2 separate regions of the Homo sapiens genome follow, and region 1 is linked to region 2. A link means that fine-mapping ties the variant in region 2 to the expression of a gene that starts in the linked region. Tissue or cell type: whole blood. Region 2 holds a variant in brackets; the other region holds the start of a gene. All regions are shown on one strand. Distances are from middle to middle.

Evidence for each region. PIP is the estimated chance that this variant, and not a neighbour inherited with it, causes the effect.
Region 1: PPP2R2B starts here. The variant in region 2 is fine-mapped to the expression of PPP2R2B in whole blood (INTERVAL, PIP above 0.99).

The regions. Positions count from the first base shown.
Region 1 is chr5:146,875,587-146,883,691 of GRCh38, reverse strand. PPP2R2B (protein phosphatase 2 regulatory subunit Bbeta) reads left to right here and starts at 4,935. Exons shown (of 10, transcript NM_181675.4): 1 at 4,935-5,101; 2 at 5,497-5,690. The coding sequence starts at 5,621.
Region 2 is chr5:146,703,207-146,711,311 of GRCh38, reverse strand. The region is part of intron 2 of PPP2R2B (protein phosphatase 2 regulatory subunit Bbeta); the gene reads left to right. It also overlaps the pseudogene KRT8P48. Among named protein-coding and RNA genes, the nearest start is that of PPP2R2B-AS2, 140 kb to the right of the region's middle. The variant C/T (reference allele first, on the strand shown) is at 4,897.

The DNA of each region.
Region 1 (8,105 bases), 170 kb before region 2:
AGACAGCACGTAAACCACCTTAGAGAGAGAGTTGTGCAATTGGTGCTTAGTGATCATAGAGAGAAATTCCATATGATTCCACAATAGAGAAATGTGACTAGGTCTGCACATACATAATGAGAAAGTCCAAGAGAAGATAATCCTGATTCCTTTCATTTGCAGGAGACTTCATGGTTTATAAAGGGCTTTTTGCAAGATGATAAAATTTCATGTATCCAGTTTCTAATTGTTCATTAAGACAGATTGATAGGCAGTAAAACTGAGGTTTCTAGGTCACTTCTGTTCACATGAACAATTGACTTGGAGTGCATCTCTCCAATTCTCTGCAAGTGGGAGATCTCATGAAGTACCGCAGGAGGAAGAAGGGTCATTTTAGTGAAGGCTGGCTCTGAGCCAAACCTGGACTAAGCACTTTCCTTACCTCTGAAGCCACCCAACAACCCTGTGAAGTAGCAACTATTGTTTTCTTCCATTTTGCAAATATAGAGGTTCAGAGATGTTAAACTACTCACCAAAGGTCATGAAATTTATAAATGCCTGAGCTGGGACACAAACCAGGACTGTCTGACACCTAAAGCCTCTATTAAGAATCTCCAGACTGGCTTAGGTCAAAGGTTTTAATAAAATTATAGATATTTAATGTGCTAATTGGACAGGGTGACCCAAAAGTTTCCTGTGTAGGAAGCATTAGCCTAAGGAAGGAAGAGTGGGTATGTGAGTGTTGGGGGAGGGGACCATGACAAGGGTGGTTAAAAAAACGAATGTATCCACATGCTGTCAATACTGAACTGGGTAACATAAGAAGGCTGTGTATTTGTAATTGGCCTTTTCTATGTAAAGCACAAGCCTGAAATAGGTCAGTCTTTCAGAGTTCCCTCTGCTGCCCCCTTTGAAGACTATGGCCCCTTTTACATAAACTGTAAATTAGACACTAAGTTCCATGACATCAGAGACTGACTACATCTTATACACTGATGTTGCTGAATCTATAATCCTATCCCAGTGTCTGACATAGTTAAGTACTTGCACATTTGCTGAACATTGATGATGGTGATGATGACGAAAGTAAATACTCATAGTAATAGCAATGTATTTTTTCCACGTATTATCTCATTTAATCCTTGTAATAACTCTATGAAACAAATACTATTCATTTTCCTAATTTATAGATAAGAAAATGATGCTTTAGGGAGATCTTGTAACTTGCTTGAGGACAGAAAAATAAGTGACAGAAAATGATATCGGAGCCTTGGCACTTAACATTGCACTATAGTCTGTCGATATAGAATGCATTTGCTGTATTGCTAAGAAAGTTCACGTTATTAAAATTAGATGATAGAATTTAAGTTCTATGAAGAAAGAAATTCTGTTTTATATAAATCTATATCCTTGGCACCTAGAGCAATTCTTTTTTTTTTTTTTTCTTGAGAAGGAGTCTTGCTCTGTCTCCCAGGCTGGAGTGCAGTGGTGCGATGCAACCTCTGCCTCCCGGGTTCAAGCAATTCTCCTGCCTCAGCCTCCCGAGTAGCTGGGACTACAGGCGCGTGCCACCATGCCTGGGTAATTTTTTGTATTTTTAGTAGAGACAGGGTTTCACCATGTTAGCCAGGATGGCCTCGATCTCCTGACCTCATAATCTGCCTGACTCAGCCTCCCAAAGTGCTGGGATTACAGGTGTGAGCCACCACACCTGGCCAGAATAATTCTTTACATAATTGCTTGGTAAATTTTGATCGTATATATGCATACAGGAATAAATCGAACCAATTATTTCAATAGGAATACAGCTTATGAGCTAGAAAATTTCCAGCTCACAACAGATTATTTTAATATGAATTTTAAGAAGGGGGGAGGTATGAAACCTAAATATTAAAGTAAGATATTCAGCAATTTATTCATTTGTTTAAGAAATGTTTGTCTCCAACAAATATAATTAAGCATCTACTAAGTGACAGTTAGTCAATAGAAAAGATCTAGTGAGGCCAGGCATGGTGGCTCACGCCAGTAATCCCAGCACTTTGGAAGGCCCAGTCAGGTAGATCACTGAGGTCAGGAGTTTGAGACCAGCCTGGCCAACATGGCAAAACCCCATCTCTACTGAAAAATACAAAAATTAGCTGGGTGTGGTGGTCCATGTCTTAGTCCCAGCTACTCAGGAGTCTGACGCATGAGACTCACTTGAACCTGGGAGGCAGAGGTTGCAGTGAGCCTTGATCGTGTCACTGCAATCCAGCCTGGGTGACAGAGAGACTCTGGCTCAGAAAAATAAAATAAATAAAATAAAAAAAGAAAATAAAAATAAAAGATCTAGTGAAAATGGCCAACAATAATAAGTAAACAAATATTATAAAACGCTGTAGGACATGAAAAAGACAAAAAAAAAATGTGGAGGCAGAAAACACCGGAAGTCAGGACTATCGTGTGGTCAGGGAATGCCTCAACGAAGCAGGGACAGTTAAGAGGCTGAATGCCAAGACATGAGGAAGTGGCAAAGAACATAGCATGCGGAAATGCCCACCACTTTTGGAAAGAACTTGACATTTTAGAGGAAAAGAGAAGTGGCCAGTGAGTCTTTTGAAGACTGATCTCTGCAGCCTACTCCCATCTCCCCCACTCTCTCCCCCACCCCGCCCCCCAGCTCCACAGTGGTGCACAGGGCTCTTTTCACTCCCTTACCTCCACCACAGGTCGTTGTGTTATGGCACAGAGCCAACAGCTTTTTTCCCCTTGGTTTTGGGTGGATGAGCTAGTTCTCTCATATTAGAAAAGAGTAGTTGGCCAAATGGAAACCTTGAAATCTACTTAAACAATGGAGACCTATCCAATCTGCCTTCTCAGAACATGTGTCTTAGGAAAAATGCCTGGACTGTTGAATAAATGCAGGAGAAAGTTTGCAGCATATGTGAAAAGAAAAATAAATAAACCCAGAGACTCGATCTGTGGAAGGGACATTCTCCCCATTGGTTACAATGGAAAATTCCTCAAGCACAGCCTGGCCAATGAGCCTGGGCCTACCTGATTCATCACACAGCTCTGTCCCAATCTAGCCCTTGATTCAGAAAGATACAGGGGAAATTTTCCCAAATACTATTCCAAGGCCTCCTGAAACAATTTTAAGATCATTCCAACCGAAGGCACAATGTCTTCTCATCATTTTGATTCACTAAGAGATGAACTTAGCTTTTCCCCACTCTGCTCCTACTCCAAATTGTGCCAATATCCAAGAGAAGCTGCAATGTGTAACTACAAAAGGACTGAATGTTGGAACCTCGGTGATAGATACAGCTCATCCCATGGAAGAACCAGCCACGACAACTTGTACTGAAGTGGATTAAATCAACTTGTACCCGTCTTCACCTGTTACTAAAATTTTAAATGTGGATTTTGAACAAACAAGTGTATAAGTCTTAAGCACTAGATGAAAATAAAATAGAATCTATTGAAAGTTGAACTGAACTCCCCCCACCACACACACACACACACACACACACACACACACACACACACACACAAAATAACTATGTCAAGGAACATTTCTGCTCTTTTCTCCCAGGGATATGCAGTCAATTTCTGGAGATGAGGAAGATGTCATTTTCTATCTACCAGAAGTATCCATACTGCATGGAAATCTAATGACAATTCCCAACCTCAGTTAAGGACTTGTTTTTCCATTTTTCTGAACTTCAAATACTTTCTAAATTGTGTTAGCCGAAGCATTGTATGTATATAATTAACTCATAGGTCCCTCTGGGCCCATCTAGCTAAACTTGTGGAGCTTAACTGAGCAAAACATTTGCTGATGTCTCTCCCTACAGTGGTACCCATTGAAATGAATACCTTCTACAAGATGAAACCTAGGAAATGTCGTTTCCAATTGGCTTTCTACTGATTGGGGTTGATGTCTTTTCCAAATTGGCTTTCTAGTGATTTGGGTTGCTTCATTAAATGTTTTTGGTTGTTTCATAACAATAGTAATCTCATTTTCTTTCAAAAGTAGAGTTTGAAATTTGGGAAAACATGGGTGGGGAGGGAATTCTACATTTTCTTCCTAGTTGAAGTAGGAAGACAGGTCTCTTTTCTGTATTAATTGGACTCCTGAAATTCCCCCAGGGTAGCAGTGGCTCTCTGTGGGCACAGGGCTCTTATGCTTATGTTTCTGTGCTTCAATGTACCTTCCATGCTGACAGCAAATAGAAGGTGTTCCTGCACAAGCAAAACCTAACGGAGAGGCTGCAATAATTTGTCCAAAACGAAGTGCAAACTGCAAGGGAGAGTGGACTTTTTCAGACTGATCCTGTTTACTAGTCTGGTGCTTTCCTCCACCTGTGTAGACACAGATGCTTTATTGAACACCAGCCTCCTACAGTTAGAAGGTATTTTGACTCTTAGGAATGGGGGAACCAGTTGCAAAGTTCTGGCCCCTGATCCCCCTCCTATTCCTACTAGAGGGCTTAAGATAGGCTCTGAGCGGCACTTCCCACTTTCTCCTCTTTTTCTGAAGCTTCGAGCCCCAAACCTCGCCCTTTAAATTCACCAAGGGACCACATGCATCATATAAGGGTGAGGAAAAGGGACCTGGATGTAGACTTCCTGACTATCCAAAGGAACCTACTTCTCTTTGCTGTTCTCAAGTTCAGGCGTCCGGAGAAAGGCAGGGAGCTAGGGGCTCTGGGTGCTAGCGTAGACGTGGCCCTTAGCTGAGTGGCGCGAGAGGGGAGGAGGTTGGAAGAGCGCGTCTATGCGTTCCACCTGAACCTGCAAGCTAGTCGCTTGCTGCCCAGGTGCCGATTCGCGGCTGCATGCGCCCCACTGCAGCAAAGAGCAGCCGCAGCCTCTGCCTCGGCCACCACTGCTGCTGGGAAAGAGTCGTGGGGCTGCTGACGCGGTTGGGAGGAGCCTCGCCTTTAATGCACCAGCCGCCTCCAGCCTCCTGCAGCAGCAGCAGCAGCAGCAGCAGCAGCAGCTGCGAGTGCGCGCGTGTGGGTGTGAGGGTGAGTGCGCTGGCGCCGGCTGCAGCGCCCTGCCCAGCTCCCCGCCAGCTTCCCTACCCCCGCCTGCCGGAGCCGCCCTCCCGTGGGACCAGCACCCTCATTCCGGCCAGGCAAGCCTGAATCCTGTCCCTGCCATCTCGCCACTGCAGCTCGGGTCCAGAAAGGCACCATTTTGTCGCGGCTGCCCGCTCTCCCAGGGGGAGGAGGGATCTTTTTTGCATTTTGGAGCGGCTGCCAAGGAGGGGAACCTGTTGGGCATCTCCCCAGACCCGCTTGTGAGCGCCTCCGGGGCGGGCGGGCGGGACCAGACCCCTCGGGGCACGGCGTATCTTGGCACCCGGAGGCAGCGGAGGCAGGCGCAGCATCCTCGCTGGGAACTGGAGCTGGAGTGAGCGCACCGCGCGGGAGGAGCCGCCGCAGCCTCGCAGAACCCGAGTGGAGGAGGTGACAGCTCCATTGCCGGGTTTTTATTTTTTTTCTCTCCGCCTCCCCGTCTCCTCCTCAGGCTCGGACCATGGTGCAGTCCCACTGGCTCCCCTGCCCCCCTCTCCTGTGAGACTGGCTGCGGGGAGGGATCATGGATACTTGTCTGCCGGCTTCTGGTTCCCACGCAAGTAAGCCTGCTGTCAATGGAGGAGGACATTGATACCCGCAAAATCAACAACAGTTTCCTGCGCGACCACAGCTATGCGACCGAAGGTAACGCCAGCCCCGCCGCATTCCGCCGTTGGGGCCGGGCGCAAGTTGCGGATCACTGTGCTTCCTGGGCAGCTGGGCGCGTAGTGGCGGAGACTCCTCCGGGCCCTAGGGCTGGGGCGGGGGCTCGGCTGGCCCCGGCAGCCCCAGTGCACCTCGCATCCATCCGGGCTCCGCGAGGCGAGCTCGGCGTTCAGCAGCAGGTGGACCCGGCGCCCACGGGAGTTAAAATGGCCCTCAGGGATTAGGCTTTTTCAGGGTGGGGCTCTCGCCCAGAAAGATGACCCCAGGAAGGCAGATGACCCCTTCCCCGAGATGTTCGCAGGGGTCTTGGGGGGAGATAAGAAGGGAGGGGCCCAGTAGGACCTTGGTCCCCCCTCCCTGAGCGAAACGATGTTATGTCTCTCAGTGGCTGCAGGGAGGGCAAGGTTTCATTTCCTGCCCATTCATCTCCCCGGCCGGCCAGGTTACCTGCTTAGACAATCAAAACCCCAAAAAGCCCTTTGCAGACGGGCGAACCTCTTTCCTTTTGGAAGTGCATTAGCAAAAATAAAAAGGTGGCTGGGGAAATAGTGCTCTGGCGGGCAGCGAATGAGGCTGACACGTGGGGTGAGCAACGCGATCGGTGGGGCCTTTAAAAATCACCATTATGAATTCTGCAGCAGTAGTTTCTGCTGAATCAACAGCCAGCAGAAAGCAAAAGGGTTCAGCAAGCTGAGCTTTGCCAAGAGGTGAAATTGTCGTCTCTCCCTCTCTCCCAGCTTGTTCTGACATAAGCACTAGTGCTGTGCGGGCAGGAAGGGAAAGTCAGCAGGTGGAATCTCATTCTGCCTTTTGTGTGTGAATAGAGAGTAGAGGCATTTTTTTCCCCCAGTGCCAAAACTTTTGCATTTTTGCTTTCATTTTCTACCTGTAGGCCTTTTATCCTTAGCCACTCATACAAAGTGTTGCATTATCACATTGTAATATCCATGCGAGAAAATGTATGTGGAAATGCTTTAGGACAATGTTGCAAGGTGTATTAATTTAAAATTATTATTCTTGGATGCTAACATTTCTGTAATATTTAATCAAATCAAAAGACTGCTAGAGAAATGTGATGGGGGGAGTAAAAGAGTTCAAGCTCTGAAAGAAATAAAAAGACACACACACATCTGGGGGTAAAGGTGGCATCTTCTATAAACATCCCTGGAAGTTCTAGACAGAAAGAATGTCCAGTGCTATTGAAAGTATATTCTCCATTTGTCATCATTTTTGGAGAGCATCAAGCCCAGTATGCCCATGGTGCTAGACAGATAAAGCAGAGTTGTAAGCTCTGGCTTCCAGGAGCTTAGAGATGGCTTTTAAGATGTGCAGCCCATCCCTCCCCTATACAGAGCACCATACTTACCGATTCTTTTTCTGTGCATGATGGCAACCTGATTGTAAGATGTTCTCCCTCAATCTTAGTGCTTTGTCACTGACTCAGTGACCTGATAGCACATGACTAACTCTGTATCTAAGCATGTCATCCAAGAGAGAAGTTGGCCTTGGGTCTGTTGGCTTTTGGGGGAACATTTATTTCTGTTTGTAACCACAAAGAAAGAGAGCTGCCTTCATGTTTTCTTGTATATTACATTATGCAGGCAAGAGAAACTTAGCAAGCTGAGAAAATGCCCAGAGTGGAGCTATGTGTACAGGAGTGTCAATTGTGAAGTGAAGAAATCAGTTAAAAATGGCATTCTTTATTGTTTTCAGGGCCCTGGATATTACCGTTGTTCTTATTTTTATTCCATTTTTGAAAACTCTGATTCTGGATAGAATATCTAGGTTCACATAGTCAAAAATAGATATGAGTTTATAGCAATGAGATTTCTGGCATGTGAGAATCAACCTCTCAGATTTCTTTCTCTTTCTCAAACACACACACATACTAATCACACTCAAAACTAACAAACCTTTATTTCACAGAAGCTTCTAGGTTTTAAAATCTGATCTTAGAGAAGGTATGAAAAGAAAAGGAAAATAGAACTTAAACGATGTAAATACCAGAAGTTGGATAGAACAAGAAGTTCCCTACAGTTTTGACCTATTCGTTTCAGGGAAGATTCATGCAATTTTGTTGCCAGAGGGGGAAGAGTCCCTGTTCTTCCAATGAATTCCTTAAGAAGTGTTAGTATACCTTGAAAAAGCACCAGATCAAAAGACTTTTTAAAAATTCTCCTCACTGGGGACTTGCCCCACAAGTTTTCTTCCCCCTTATTAACTTATACCCTCTTACTGGGTGGGGAATTAGCTTCTAGTCCTTCCATAGATCTTGCTTTTCTGTTTCCTTTACTATTTCTACATTTTCCTCCTACCTGCTCAGTTATGTCAGATTGTTCTTTTTTTTCCTCCAAAATATCTCCTTCACATGTATTTCTGAATTTTTCTTCTGTT
Region 2 (8,105 bases):
TCTCTTCAGTGCCCATTCAGTGATCCATTAAAGAAAAAAGATTGATTGCTTGATGACTTGTGAGCATAGAAAAAAAAAGATTGAGAAGCATCTGTTATATACTAAGAGACTCAGCTAGGCACTGAGGGTTTAGTGGTGAACAAGTTCCTTGTGAAGTTTACAATGAAGAGACTGAAACAGGCATATAAATGATTCTAATATCATTGTGATAAATGCTAATGATTAGTGGTGATAACTTATAAAGGCAAAGTATGGGGAGCAATGAGGCTGCATAATAAAGGGAGCTGTGTTGGGCTTAAAAGAAGTCACACAGGGCTTCTTAAGGAAGTGATACCTGAGCCAGTCCCAAAATATGGGGAATTTTAGCTTCCACAAAGTGGATACCATGTCTTACTGACTTCAGAACATCTGGCAAAGCAAAATTTCTGACCAAACATGTGCCAGATGCCATAATATGTGTGTTTGGGTAGCAGGTAGCACAGGGCCTGCCCAAGAACTCCCATTCCCCCACAGATGTGAGAACTTTCTCATTTTGGACCTGGAGTCCTGCTGACTTTGGGGTCAGCCATAGATGTCCCATGTTGTGCGGATAATAGATCTGAATGATTGACAGAGTTTGTATTGCCTGAGCAGTTAATTACTCCTCTGCTTTTTGAAAAATTGGGTGACAGATGGTAAACACCTTGACAGCAGATTCCACTGTAAACCACACAGGCATGTAGGCAAGTCTGGACTGCTATCAATTTCCCACTGGATTTTTCTGTACTCAGAGACTTATAATTTTTAAGACTCCTTTGCCCTTTAGGCAAGTTTTGTTCCAACTATGGGAAAATTTTATCTTCTAGGCTTCTATGTTGCAGGAACTTGTTTTGAATAAAAGGCAATCTTTATCAACCCACATGTCCTTGGGTTGATTCAAACCTGTTTAGTGTTGGAGATTTGGTCAGCCTGGGGAAGCTGTGTGCATTTTAAGGGGAACAGCATGGCATTCATTACTCACCTGCTTCCCACCATCTGGATTTTCACAGCTCAGCAAGCATGGTGGGCTTCCTGCATATTAGCAGGGAAAGCTTGGCTCCTAAAGAGGGTGTGGCTAGGTCCCTCTGAAGTCATAATTTTACAATGAACACCATGAATAAATTGGGGTTGGCATTCTATCCCAGTAAGCTGCTTTCATATCTGAATGGTTGAAAAATAATACACCATCTCCACAGCAGGGGAAGGAGGAAAAACACAAATCATCTTAATACTAGGAATCAAGCAAGTGGGAAGGAAAATTGGTTGTGTGGTAGAGTAAAGTGGAAATGTGCATGTGAGAGTTTGTGCAAATATGTTGTAAGGCAAGGGAGTTTCCAACTCAACATGCATTAATAACCTGGCCCTGTGCAAAGTGCTATAAGGAAAACAAAGATGGAAAGACATGTATAGTAGCATGAATTTAGATGAATATAACAGAAAACTTACTAACAGTAGCTTAAACCACAGGGTTTAACAATTTCAGACATAGGCTGTCTTAAGGTAGGTTTTAGTTGTTCAACAGTGTCATCAAAGATATTGTCCCATTCTCCCATCTGTCATACTCAGCTTCTTAGCCTTTTAAAGTCCATAGGCTTATTACCTCATGGTCACATGATGGCTGCCACAGCCCCACGTATTATGAACACATTTAATTACAAACAAAGGCAGGAAGCAATGAAGAGTCCGGTCAGAAGGCCTTCCCTCACTTACTTCCTTTTATTCAGGGAAGAAAACTCTTTCCCAGAATCTCTGTCCCGCTCCTGCTTCCCCAGTAGACTTTCCTGTATGCCTCATTGGCCAGATCTGGGTCACACAATTACCCCTAGCCACAAGGGAGGCTAAAAAGCAAGTATGTGGGTTTTCCAGCCTCTACAGTGGGACAGTAGGAGGCAGGCAAGGAAGAAAGATTCTGAGTAGGAGTAGCCAACCAAGAGTATCTGCCATGACATAACACATGCCATTAATGGGCTTGATCTACAGGGTCAGACTGACATTTAAGCAGTGCCCATTTTTTAATACTGCACTTATGGTTAAGTAGGAAACAGCCATTGTGATAAGAGCTTGGGACTTGGAGCTATTGGACCCTTCTATCTGTATTCTTTCATCTAAGAGGTAAACCAGCACCAGGTTGAAGATAAAACCAGTATGCACAGAATTAATTAAATGAAAGGAAGAATATTCAGTATCCAAATACTAGACACTGATTGGATGACAGAGGAAACAATTCTGGATCAAACAGAACGTATTACACACAGTAGGTCAAGGATAGCAAGCATGTGGCATGTGTAATCAGAACTGTGTATTTACTACTTCTGTCTTTAGTACCAAACTAAATGAGTGTGAGAAGCAGTGTCAAGTTAAGAAGGTAACGCTACTGAATCAGGAACTCAAACATAGTTCCATTTAGACAAGGGCATAGGTGAAAAGGTAGAATACTTCATGGATAACGTAGCTTGGATGCAGGTTGGCAAAAGTGTATTGATGAATTTTTTTTAGCTCCATACCATCCAAACAGAATCCCAAATAGTAATAACATCTAGACAGAAAGATTAAAAAAAATCTTTGACTCTGTGTACTAAGAAAATAATTATTGGTGCCAAATCAAGTTGAGTCATATCAATAGAGACACTGTATCTACACAGCATTTTTAACTCTTACAAGCTCTTATATCTATCAGTTCATTTTATTCCCATAATTTTACTTCTTTTGGAAGAATTGTCCACTAAAAAGAGCAGTATGAAGGAACTTTCTGGGGTCAATGGAATTGTTCTATATCATGATAGTGGTTATGGATACATATCTCTATGCATTTGTCAAAACCTTTAGAACTGGATGCCACAAAAAGTGAATTTTACACACACACACACACACACACACACACACACATACACACACACATACATAGATATACAGATATACAGTGTTTTTTTTTTTTTTGAGACCAAGTCTGGCTCTGTCGCCCAGGTGTGAGTGCAGTGGCATGATCTCGGCTCACTGCAACCTCTGCCTCCCAGGCTCAAGTGATCCTCCCACCTCAGCCTCCCAAGTAGCTGGGACCACAGACATACACCACCATGCCGAGCTAATTTTTTTTATTTTTGGTAGAAATGGTGTTTCACCATGCTGCCCAGCCTGGTCTCGAACTCCTGAGCTCAAGGGATCCACCTGCCTCAGCCTCCCAAAGTGCTGAGATTATAGGCGTGAGCCACCGTGCCCAGCCTATATATAAATTTTAAATTTTTAAAAAGTTTTAAAGCTGCTGAGATGAGTGCTAAAATCTTTCATTCAGTTTGAAAACAAATTAAAATTGTTTACAAGTTAAAAATTGTTCAAGTATTTATGGTTATGGCAAAATATAGAAAATACCGAAGATTTAGAAAAAGACCATAAGAAAATAAATTATGTACGTTCTACACCAAAAAGTACAATTTTGGATTCTCTCTGATAAACTTTTGTCTATAGAGAGAGAGTGTGTGGGTATGTGTAGTCATTAACAATTACTTGTAGGAGAGTCAGATTGTAAAGGAAACTTAGTTTTATATTTTAAGTGCCACCTTGTCATTAACAGAAGTTTCTGTAAGTGTACATATTGCTTTACCTGTTAGAAAAGATATATTCTACCAAGAAGCAGCTTCTCCACTCCTTCTGGAATCTCCGCCTGGTTCAGCCCGCCTGCCTCCACTCCTGCCTCCACCATGTCCATCAGGGTGCAGAAGTCCTACAAGGTGTCCACCTCTGGCACCCGGGCCTTCTGCAGCTGCTCCTACACGAGTGGGCCTGGTGTCTGCATCAGCTCCTTGAGCTTCTCCTGAGTGGGCAGCAGCAGCTTCCGGGGTGGCCTATGGTGGGGCCAGTGGCATGGGAGGCATCACTGCCGTCCCAGTCAACCAGAGCCTGCTGAACCCCCTTAACCTGAAGGTGAACCCCAACATCCATGCTGTGTGCACCCAGGAGAAGGAGCAGATCAAGACCTTCAACAACAAGTTTGCCTCCTTCGTCGACAAGGTACGGTTCCTGGAGCAGCAGAACAAGATGCTGGAGACCAAGTGGAGCCTCCTGCAGCAGCAGAAGACGGCTGGGAGCAACATGGACAACATATTCGAGAGCTACATCAACAGCCTTAGGCGGCAGCTGGAGACTCTGGGCCAGGAGAAGCTGAAGCTGGAGGCGGAGCTTGGCAACACGCAGGGGCTGGTGGAGGACTTCAAGAACAACTATGAGGATGAGATCAATAAGAGTACAGAGACGGAGAATGAATTTGTCCTCATCAAGAAGGATGTGGATGAAGCTTACATTAACGAGGTAGAGCTGGAGTCTTGCCTGGAAGGGCTGACGATATCAACTTCCTCAGGCAGCTGTATGAAGAGGAGATCCGGGAGCTGCAGTCCCAGATCTCGGACACGTCTGTGGTGCTGTCCATTGACAACAGCCGCTCCCTGGACACGGACAGCATCATCGCTGAGGTCAAGGTACAGTACGAGGAGATCGCCAACCGCAGTCGGGCTGAGGCCGAGAGCATGTATCAGATCAAGTATGAGGAGCTGCAGACGCTGGCTGGGAAGACCTGCGTCTTACAAAGACTGAGATCTCTGAGATGAACCGGAACATCAGCTGGCTCCAGGCTGAGACTGAGGGCCTCAAAGGCGGGAGGATTTCCCTGGAGGCCGGCATCGCAGATGCGGAGCAGCGCAGGGAGCTGGTCATTAAGGATGCCAACGCTAAGCTGTCCGAGCTGGAGGCCGCCCTTCAGCAGACCAAGTAGGACATGGCGCGGCAGCTGCGTGCCTACCAGAAGCTGATGAACATCAAGCTGACCCTGGACATCGAGATCGCCACCTACAGGAAGCTGCTGGAAGATGGAGAACATGAGTATCCATA[C/T]GAAGACCACCAGCGGCTATGCAGGTGGTGTGAGCTTGGCCTATGGGGGCCTCACAGGCTCTGGCCTCAGCTACGGCCTGAGCTCCAGCTCTCGCTCTGGCGCAGGTTCCAGCTCCTTCAGCCGCACCAGCTCCACCAGGGCCATGGTTGTGAAGAAGATCAAGACCCGAGATGGGAAGCTGGTGTCCTCTGATTTCCTGCTCAAGTGAACAGCTGCGGCAGCCCCTCCCAGCCTGCCCCTCCTACGGCTGCCCCAAAGCCTAGGAGGGAGGCTGCTGTGCAAGGAAGCACAGGGAACAGGAGACTTACCTGAGGCTCAGCCCTAGCCCTCAGCCCACCCGCGGGGGAGTTCACTGCCTGGGGACCCCCGCCCCTTGCCCATGCCTCCAGCCACAAAACAATTCAATTGTTTTTTGTTTTGTTTTGTTTTGTTTTTCTGTCCAAAATAAAACCTCAGCTAGCTCTGCCAAAAAAAAAAAAAAGAGAAAAGATATATTCTGAAATGAAAACACTTTGACAAAATTGCAATCATTTGACATAAACTGTTTTATTGACTGATTATTTTCTAAATTTTATGACATATTAACATCTTTCAACAAGGTCATCTTGGCATAATCCCAGTAGGAGTATTTGGGTTTGGCCATAACCAGACTTTTTTCCTATCCCCTCCCCAACCCCCTATTTGTGGAAAATATGCTCAAATGCACTATTTCAGTTACCAAAACTTGGTAAGTTACTTTGGTAAAGTAAACCTTATCAGAGAAAATGGATGCTGACTTTGGACCGTGATCCAGGACCCAAGAAGGAGACCACAGTTTTATATGGATGGGAGGAACAACTGTAATTCCCATCAGGACACCTAAGAATCCCGTTTGTTTAATGATCCACAAAGTAGTCATTGCCAGTCTAGCTAGAAGCCTCTGTGCTGGGATGACAAATGATACACATCCTACCTCCCCCACCACCCACCCAGATTCATTACCCATTAATCATGGCACCCCAGCCTAGAAGTGACCCCGCAAAACCTTCTCAACACAAACCTGGTAACTATGATCATTTCACCATTATCATTCACTATGAAATATATTTTCTGTTCTTATCTTAGCTGAAGGCGAAAACTACCAAAACCCAATCCAGTCATCAGAAATAAAGCCAGGTATTGAGTAGGCAGAACTAGTCAGCTGATGCAAGTAGGGTAAATGACTTTATGATATTATCTACCAAATGTTTCTTAGATGAAAGATAAAACATTTAATGGGCTCTGAAAACTAAATTGCATTACCCTTGCATTTCCATCTCTATGATTGATGTTGAGAGGTCAGTGCTAGTGACCTGGTCAGTAAGATATTCCATCTGTAGACTTTGAGTTTAGATCCTAAGTCTAAACTGAGTCTCCATTTTATCAAAACAGTCACCCTCCTATGTGAGTTGTATATCACCTAATAATCCAGGTGCCTGCCTCAACTCAATTCTCTGGCATTGCATAGACTCCAGCCTAGCATGATACTGCAAGAGACTAGGGATGAACTAGGAGATTCCTCTGTTTCCGTAAGCCTCACAATCATTAGCCTCACATGCGTATCATTGTTAAGTCAATATCTATTATTCAGGTAAATAATACTTTATGTATGAAATTACCAGTCTAGAACTTTTGTAGGATGCTGAGATTGATTTAAAAAAAAAATAATAAACTCAGCCTTAATAGTGCCTATTGAGCTAGAAATGGGGTTACCAGGCCACCATCTTGTGGAAATTAAATCAGCACAAATAGATTTGGAGCAAGGCAAACTTCACACTACCCAGGGTTTCCTTTAAAAATCACTTTAACTACATCTGACCTTTCTAGCTGTTTCTGGCTTTTGTTTTTAGTCATTGTGTACTTTATCCACATCTATATACAACAGAGGAAAAATGCTCAAGTTTGTAGTTTCTTGATCAACAGCATGATTAGGCTGAGCAGTTAATGAAATGTGGAATTGTCATATAAACTTACAATTTAAAGGTGAAAGCCATGTTGAACTTGATGAATTGATTTCTGTGGATCATGATTTCAAATGACGTTATTATCTCTAAACTTGCTACCTTATTACTACATCCTCTTACCATATCACAAAATTATTTTGTCTTGAGCAGTATATTTTCCAGTTTAAACTGCCTTACCAAAGAGCATGCTGCAAACACAAGAGTATTTGTATCAGAAGTTTCAGTATCTTGAAATTGGAATGTATAATGATTCATGAGTTTTGCATCAATTATTAAACAGTCATAGATGAAGATATGCAGAGATGGATGGGGCAGTAAAGTATTCCAGTTACACCTACTGGCTTAGCAATGATAAATGAGTCAGGAAACATGAAAGTTCAAAACAAGTATTAACTTGAGCTGCCACGGCTTATTCTCTGAAGGGAAGTAGACAATAGCATGATATAAACAGGTTCATGTACAGAGCAGCTGGCTAGTAGAATTAAAATAAAGGTAAGGACTCTGCAAGAGGGCTAAGGAATTTCAGAATCCTGCCATGCAAATCACCCTTTCTCTTACAAGGTTCTTGAGGGAGACATAGCATTGCAAAATAATAACACTTGGAAAACAAAGGAAATATTTGTATTACCTGGGACCATGCCTAATACTCCATAATGCAGAATTCTAATAATACTGGCTTAAATCATGTGACTTTGACTTCCACTTGAATCCTGCCTTGTTTTGACTTGCATGGGTCTTAAAGTGAGAGTAAAGACATTTTCAGAGTCTAGGAAGAAGGAAAATGTATGTGTCATCCCCTGGGAAAGCAAGTGTTGCCCTTGGAGTAATATCTTCTTGGCAACTGAGCCAAGAGCTCACACTGGGAAAAGCTACTTAACTCTCTTCTGATACCCAACTTCACCAAAAGGAAAGGCCCATCTTTAGTTCTCATTGTAAGGCCCTTGCAGCCCACCCAGAACTCTAGTGTTCTGCATTAATCACTGTCCAGTGAAAGGGCATAGACTGCATGTAAGCAGAACTTTAGAACGTAGCTCTGAGACAAGAGCCAGGCATTGTAAACCTCAGGCCTGGCTCCCACCACCCTCTCATTATTTCCTGCTACTCTTTCTTTCTGAGAAATGTTTGTATTTGAGCAGTTCAAGAGCCTTGAACTGGACCAGCCTTTGTACCTGACCAAAGACAAAAAGTGAAAAGCAATAGACATGCCCGCTTTAGGCTGTACCCAA